Homo sapiens: one gene and its partner. The protein of the gene in region 1 purifies or fractionates together with the protein of each later gene. This does not show direct contact. Each region holds a gene or a part of one and is shown on either strand. Other genes may lie near its edges.

The links. Proteins that work in one complex are often made in the same cells at the same time.
Region 2: the proteins of DCK (region 1) and NUCKS1 fractionate together in Homo sapiens (co-fractionation; one large-scale study listed by BioGRID). This does not show direct contact.

What each region holds. Positions count from the first base shown.
Region 1 is NC_000004.12:71,021,067-71,024,721, forward strand, and holds part of DCK (deoxycytidine kinase), read left to right. Parts: intron 1-1,300; coding exon 1,301-1,494; intron 1,495-2,492; coding exon 2,493-2,640; intron 2,641-3,655. UniProt on the Homo sapiens protein: Phosphorylates the deoxyribonucleosides deoxycytidine, deoxyguanosine and deoxyadenosine. Has broad substrate specificity, and does not display selectivity based on the chirality of the substrate.
Region 2 is NC_000001.11:205,729,604-205,733,258, forward strand, and holds part of NUCKS1 (nuclear ubiquitous casein and cyclin-dependent kinase substrate 1), read right to left. Parts: intron 1,750-3,655; exon of another isoform or gene 1,618-1,749; intron 19-1,617; coding exon 1-18.

The DNA of each region.
Region 1 (3,655 bases):
TTTTTTTTTTTTTTTTTTTTGAGACGGAGTCTCGCTCTGTCGCCCAGGCTGGACTGCGGACTGCAGTGGCGCAATCTCGGCTCACTGCAAGCTCCGCTTCCCGGGTTCACGCCATTCTCCTGCCTCAGCCTCCCCAGTAGCTGGGACTACAGGCGCCCGCCACCGCGCCCGGCTAATTTTTTGTATTTTTAGTAGAGACGGGGTTTCACCTTGTTAGCCAGGATGGTCTCGATCTCCTGACCTCATGATCCACCCGCCTCGGCCTCCCAAAGTGCTGGGATTACAGGCGTGAGCCACCGCGCCCGGCCTGCTATTTCTAACTCAGATAAAAGATGATAAGAGTTTTTACTTCATTTTAAAATTTACATTTGTATTTTTCCTCAACATGTAAAATGTGGTTCTAACAATAAGATTATTGAATTGCAAAATCTGGGGCAGGAACTATTGTATTATATTAGAAGATTGGAGGGTTACAAATACAAATGCCTAAAGGGGCCAGACAGCCAAATGAATATATCAGGCCTGTTATGAAAATCATCCGGGAATGGTGGGGATTAATAAGCCAGAGAGCATATATCCCATCTAAAGGAGGCATCTGTGACTTGATTCTAGCTGATTTTTGCCAAGAGGGAATATGGGCATGGTACTGCTTGGTTTTTTCATTTTTAAAAAGAAGACGTAATCCCTGCACTTTGGGAGGCCAAGGCAGGCAGATCATGAGGTCAGGAGATGGAGACCATCCTGGCTAACACGGTGAAACCCCGTCTCTACTAAAAATGTAAAAAATTAGTTGGGCATGGTGGCACGCGCCTGTAGTCCCAGCTACTTGGGAGGCTGAGGCGGGAGAATTGCTTGAACCTGGTAGGTGGAGGTTGCAGTGAGCTGAAATCGTGCCACTGCACTCCAGCTGGGGCAACAGAGCAAGACTCCATCTCAAAAAAGAAAAAAAAGAAGATGTAAATCCAAATATTTTATGTGAAATTATTTAGCTTTTAAATATTGACAATACTATTGACAAACTAAGTCAAAGTTTTAAAAAGGACTTTTGGACCAAACAATGATTTCTTCCATAGGTTATTAGTTTGTAACCTCTTGTGAGAAAGATCTAAGGATTTTCCAGACCTCAGACAATCTGAAAAATATATTGGGAAAGAGTATGAGAAAGGGAACTTAATCATCTTGGTTTTGCTGATCATGATTACATTTATTTATCTGACTTTTATTTTTTAGCCTTAAAAATTAAAATAGCCCTATTGACCATTAATTTTGCTTTTTATTTCTTTTTGCACATTCAAAATAGGAACTTACAATGTCTCAGAAAAATGGTGGGAATGTTCTTCAGATGATGTATGAGAAACCTGAACGATGGTCTTTTACCTTCCAAACATATGCCTGTCTCAGTCGAATAAGAGCTCAGCTTGCCTCTCTGAATGGCAAGCTCAAAGATGCAGAGAAACCTGTATTATTTTTTGAACGATCTGTGTATAGTGACAGGTATGTATAAATGGCTTGTACGTGGCCATTTGAAGTTTTTATCTTAGAACTGGACTTTTTTTTTTTTTTTAATGTTTCCTGGGAATTAGTAATAATGAATGGCTGAGCTGGGGATTTAAGATGGAAAATGACATTTAAATCCCTCAGCAGTCTGGTACTAATGGCATTAGGGAAGTTATTGCATTTATAATCCTCAGCTTCCATAGAAACTGTTGGGAATATGGTGGTGCCCATTTCATTTAAATTTGCAGAGAAGTTGTTTTTCCCTCTAACCCTTTTAAAATTCTCATCTGCTCTGGTTAAATCTGGATCTATATCCTAGACTCTTACCTGGATCAAGAAGATAAAAGTCTCTAAGGGGCCTTAGAATTGCCCTACTTATGCTAGGATTCTTTTGACCTCCAAAGTTAGCTCAGAACAGAGGTTCTCAAACATTTGATCTCAGGGCCCTTTTCAATTCTTAATAACTATCGAGGTGTCCAAAGAGCATGTCCTATTGATACTTAACATTACTAGAAATTAAGATGCACAAAAATGATTTAAAATTAGCAATAATAAATTCATTACATATTAATATAAATACATTTGACAAAAAGTTATATTTTCTAAAATAAAAAGTAGCTAGAAGAATATCATTGCTTTACATTTTTGCAGATATCTTTAATGCCTCACTTATTAAAAGACAGCTGGATTTTTATTTATGCTTCTGTATTTAATCTGTTATGGTATGTTTGTTTGTTTGAAGTATATTGGTATATGAAGTAATCTGGCCTCTCACAGAACCCCTTAGAAGATCTTGGGGACTTAATGGGGTCCTCACTCCGTATTTTGAGAACCATTGGCCAAAAACATGATGGAAAGACTCTTGTCTTTTTCTGCTTTCCACGGCACTATGTGCCACTGGATTTAGGAGAATGTTTCATGTTCCTGTTCTCTTTTTTATTTCTTTGTTGTTTTTTTTTGAAATGATACATGTGTTGATGAAGACTCTCTTTTAGGTATATTTTTGCATCTAATTTGTATGAATCTGAATGCATGAATGAGACAGAGTGGACAATTTATCAAGACTGGCATGACTGGATGAATAACCAATTTGGCCAAAGCCTTGAATTGGATGGAATCATTTATCTTCAAGCCACTCCAGAGGTAAAACCCAATAAAAATGTGTTTCACTGAAAATTTAAAGAAATATTTAGAACTCTTTTCAGTGGTATATAATGAGGGCAATTTAGTTTAACTCCAGCCTCCCAACCTCCCACTCCCCACCTCTAAATTAGAAACTTGTAACTGTGTAGATAGAAGCATTCTTTTTTCTCAGCAAACTGGAATCCCAGACTGGGCAAGTTGCTGTTTTAGGCTCTTTGTGCTTCCTCAATTCTTTTTTATTTTACTCATTATTTCTTTCTAACATTTGCAGACTCTTCTCATTCATCACAGTTAAAGTAATGAATGTGGTCAAGCAACTCCTAGAATATAGGCTTCATGAGGTGGGACCTTGGGCATTTTGATTACTATTGAATTTCCATTGCCTAGAACACCCAGTGCTGGGCACTGTTGGAGCATATAGTAGGAGCTCAGTAAATATTTACTGAATGAATGGCAATGTTGATGGAGGTCCATATCAAGAAATATTTTATTATGGTTGTTTGTGCCTTGGAATGAGTGGATAATGGCAGCTATCGTTGGGAAAAGACTTAGAGGACCCTTGCCATTTTCCATTAAGGGAGCTCACTTGAAAAGGTGCTTTTTGTGATAGGTTGTAACATAGCTATTCTAGTTACATATGATGTTATATAATGAATACAGGATGACCAAATAGATGCCTTTCATAAAACTAACCTAAATATTAAGATCTTACATTTAATCAGAAGCTTTCTGGTTTTGGTGCGTGCATTTCTATTGTTTCTGTTTTTTAATTCTCATTTTTTCCTTAAGTCACAGGGTAGGCACTGATGAATGTAAATGTTATGACTTCTGGCCTAAAATTAGAATACTGTGTTGCTGTCGAAGCTGGGTTTTCAAAGAAATTAGGTTTCCTATTCCAACGGATGATTTTGTTCTTCATTAAGTAAAGATTTTGTTCTTCATTAAGCAAGGATTTAGCAATTTTTTAGCAATTTCAAAAGTGAATTTTGAAATTCACTTTTATTTTTGAATTTTT
Region 2 (3,655 bases), on another chromosome or scaffold:
TCAACAACCTTCCTATTTCTGTAGAAAGAAGAGACTCTAATTAAAATCATAAAACTGTAGGATTTTTCTAAGACATCAGAACACACATTTCTCTTTCATAAACAGAACTGAACTAGCACTTTGAAAATTATTTAATTGCTGGACGTGGTGGCTCACACCTGTAATCCCAGCACTTTGGGAGGCCAAGGCTGGTGGATCATCTGAGGTTGGGAGTTTGAGATCAGCCTAACCAACATAGAGAAACCTTGTCTCTACTAAAAACACAAAATTAGCCAAGCGTGGTGGTGCATGCCTGTAATCCCTGCTACTTGGGAAGCTGAGGTAGGAGAATCACTTGAACCCAGGGGTCAGAGGTTGTGGTGAGCCGAGATACCTCCATTGCACTCCAGCCTGGGCAACAAAAGTGAAACTCCATCTCAAAAAAAAAAAAGAAAAGAAAAAAAAAGAAAATTATTTAATTAATTTTTTGAGACAGGGTGTCACTCTGTCGCCTAGGCTGGAGAGCAGTGACACAATCATGGCTCACTGCAACCTTGACCTACTGGGCCCAAGTAATCCGCCTGCCTCAGCCTCCTGAGTAGCTGGGACTACAGACGCATGCTGGCTAATTTTTTTTCATTTTTTGTAGAGACAGGGTCTCCTGGTGTTGCCCAGGCTGGTCTCAAACTCCTGAGCTCAGGTAGTCATCCTGCCTCAGCCTCCCGAAGTGCTGGGATTACAGGCACGAGCCACTGCACCCAGCCAAAAATTATTTTTTAAAGGCCCCCACTTAAGCCTAAGTACTTAACATTCTGTTATAAGAAAGCATAGCATAAACCACAAGTATGTCAAGCTACAATTCTCATACTGCTCATCTCAGTGATAATTCAAATACCATTCTTTTCTCTCTCTTTTTTTTTTTTTGAGATGAAGTCTTGCCCTGTCGCCCAGGCTAGAGTGCAATGGCGAGATCTTGGCTCACTGCAACCTCTGCCTCCCAAGTTCAAGCGATTCTCCTGCTTCAGCCTCCCGAGTAGCTGAGATTACAGGCGTGTGCCACCACGCCTGGCTAATATTTGTATCTTTAGTAGAGACGGGGTTTCACCATGTTGGCCAGGCTGGTCTCCCCTGATCTCGTGATCCGCCCGTCTTGGCCTCCCAAAGTGCTGGGATTACAGGCGTGAGCCACCGTGCCCGGTCTCAAATACCATTCTTTTCTACAAAACAATCTCCCGTCTCTCAAAACAAATATACATAAAACAGCAAAATGAGCCAAATCACCATGTACCTATGTATTCATTATATACAAAGATGCCCTATTTATAAGCTAAAGTTGTAAATGATATTTTACTCTTACTGCTACACACATATATATGTATACTTGATAAACAAGGTTATTACTAAGCTTTTCAAGGCAAAAGCAATTTTTAGGTATAGTACAGTTACATTATAATGCACAAAAATTATGGTAATGTTAAGCTTTATACAGAAGGGGAAGGAAACAAATTAATTGGTCCAGTCAAAAGATGCTTTATTTAAAAAACTATGAAAGCCTCACAGATTTATGTACATCTATGTATTTGACTCTATTCTTTTGTTTCTAAACTTTTTTTTTCCTTTTCCAATTTTACAGACCTGGTTTATCAGCAACATTTATAAAACTAGACCTCAGGAAAGAACTAGTTCTGGGGATATATGCATGGTCTTAATAAAGTGAATGGTTAGCCTGTCCTGACTATTACAAAATCAAAACAGTGAGAATATCTGCAGAATCTATTTGACTCTAAATGACTTTAAGTACTCCCTATCAAGTAACGTATCTTTAACATCTCAAACAAATCTTCATTTCTATTTTTGTACTCTGCACTCTAAATCTAAAAGTTTAATACTTCTTCTCTAGAGATATACATGTAAGCTTCCATGTTAGTACCCAAACAGCCTACCTGGCAAAAGAGCCTTAGATTAAAAAATGCACTGTTACTGTAGGCCTAAATTGATCAAGTGAACTTAAAAAATTAAGAGAAATAGGCCAGGCGCAGTGGCTCACGCCTATAATTTCACCACTTTGGGAGGCCGAGGCGGGCAGATCACGAGGTCAGGAGATTGAGACCATCCTGGCCAACGTGGTGAAACCCCGTCTCCACTAAAAATACTAAAAAATTAGCTGGGTGTGGTGGCGGGCGCCTGTAGTCCCAGCTACTCGGGAGGCTGAGGCAGGAGAATGGCTTGAACCCGGGAGGCAGAGCTCGCAGTGAGTGAGCCAACATCACGCCACTGCACTCCAGCCTGGGCGAAAGAGAGAGACTCCGTCTCAAAAAAAAAAAAAAAATTTAAGATAAATATACATTACCACCTATACTTAAACCTGAGCAGAGGGATATTCTTGGCTGTATAGATTAAGACACCATTTAAATTCAAAGACAGGATGGTCAGACTGCAAACACTGGTCCACCTTCTAGTATAGTATGTGGAGATGGTATGGATGGAGGTGAATTCTGGAAAAAAAGGCTTGGGCTTATATGTAGAGGAATATATAGTTACATACTCAGCATTAGAAAGAGAAAAAACAAGGCTCTTAAGGAGTTCCACCTTCTGTTTTTCTTTAGTTTAACAAAACTATAAAATATACTCCAACTATATATTTTATTGTAAGAAGCTGAGTTTATATTACCAAAGATACTATATTATTAGGAAAGCTAACTTTAAATATGACTATTAATTCCATGTACATGAGGGACCTAGAGTAGATGAATTCAGAGAGACAGAAAGTAGAGTGGTGGTTGCCAGAGGCTGGAAGAGTGGGGATGAGGAGCTGTTGTTTAGTGGGTTTAGTTTCAGTTTTGCAAGATTAAGAGTTCTTTACAACAATGTCAAGTACTTAACAATACTGAACTATACACTTAAAAATGGTTAACATGGGCCGGGCACAGTGGCTCATGCCTGTAATCCCAGCACTTTGGGAGGCCAAGGTGGGCGGATCATGAGGTCAAAAGATCGAGACCATCCTGGCCAACATGGTGAAAACCCGTCTCTAGTAAAAGTACAAAAATTAGCTGGGCGTGGTGGTGCGTGCCTGTAGTGCCAGCTACTTGGGAGACTGATGCAGGAGAATTGCTTGAACCTGGGAGACAGAGGTTGCAGTGAGCAGGGATCGCACCACTGCACTCCAGCCTGGCAACAGAGCAAGACTCTGTCTCAAAAAAAAAAAAAAAAGTTAAGATGGTAAATTTTATGCTAAGCATATTTTATTACAATAAAAATATATTTTCTTTCTTAAAAATATGACTATGAAAAAATCTAATATTTTTGGGCTACTATGGAAATGCCTGCCATGTTCTGGCAAAACAGTGATTTTTTAATGACAAATGCCATGAAAAATAGTATGATGATCATAATGCAAACACGACCATTTTCTGTATTATTTAGGATAAAAAAAATGGGTCATAGAACCAGGGGAAGAAAGGTATCTAGAAGAGGAACTCTTACATCTTATCCTCTAATAATTAAAATACAGGTTCCGAACTTGTAGGTATAATTCTAGCTTATCCCATGCTTGTGGGGTGGCAACTAACATATTATTACCCCATTTCTGGGTACGACGTAGCAATGGATATATCCTATGAAACTACATAAGGATGGACAACCAGAATGGTAAACGGTATATCATATGAAGAAC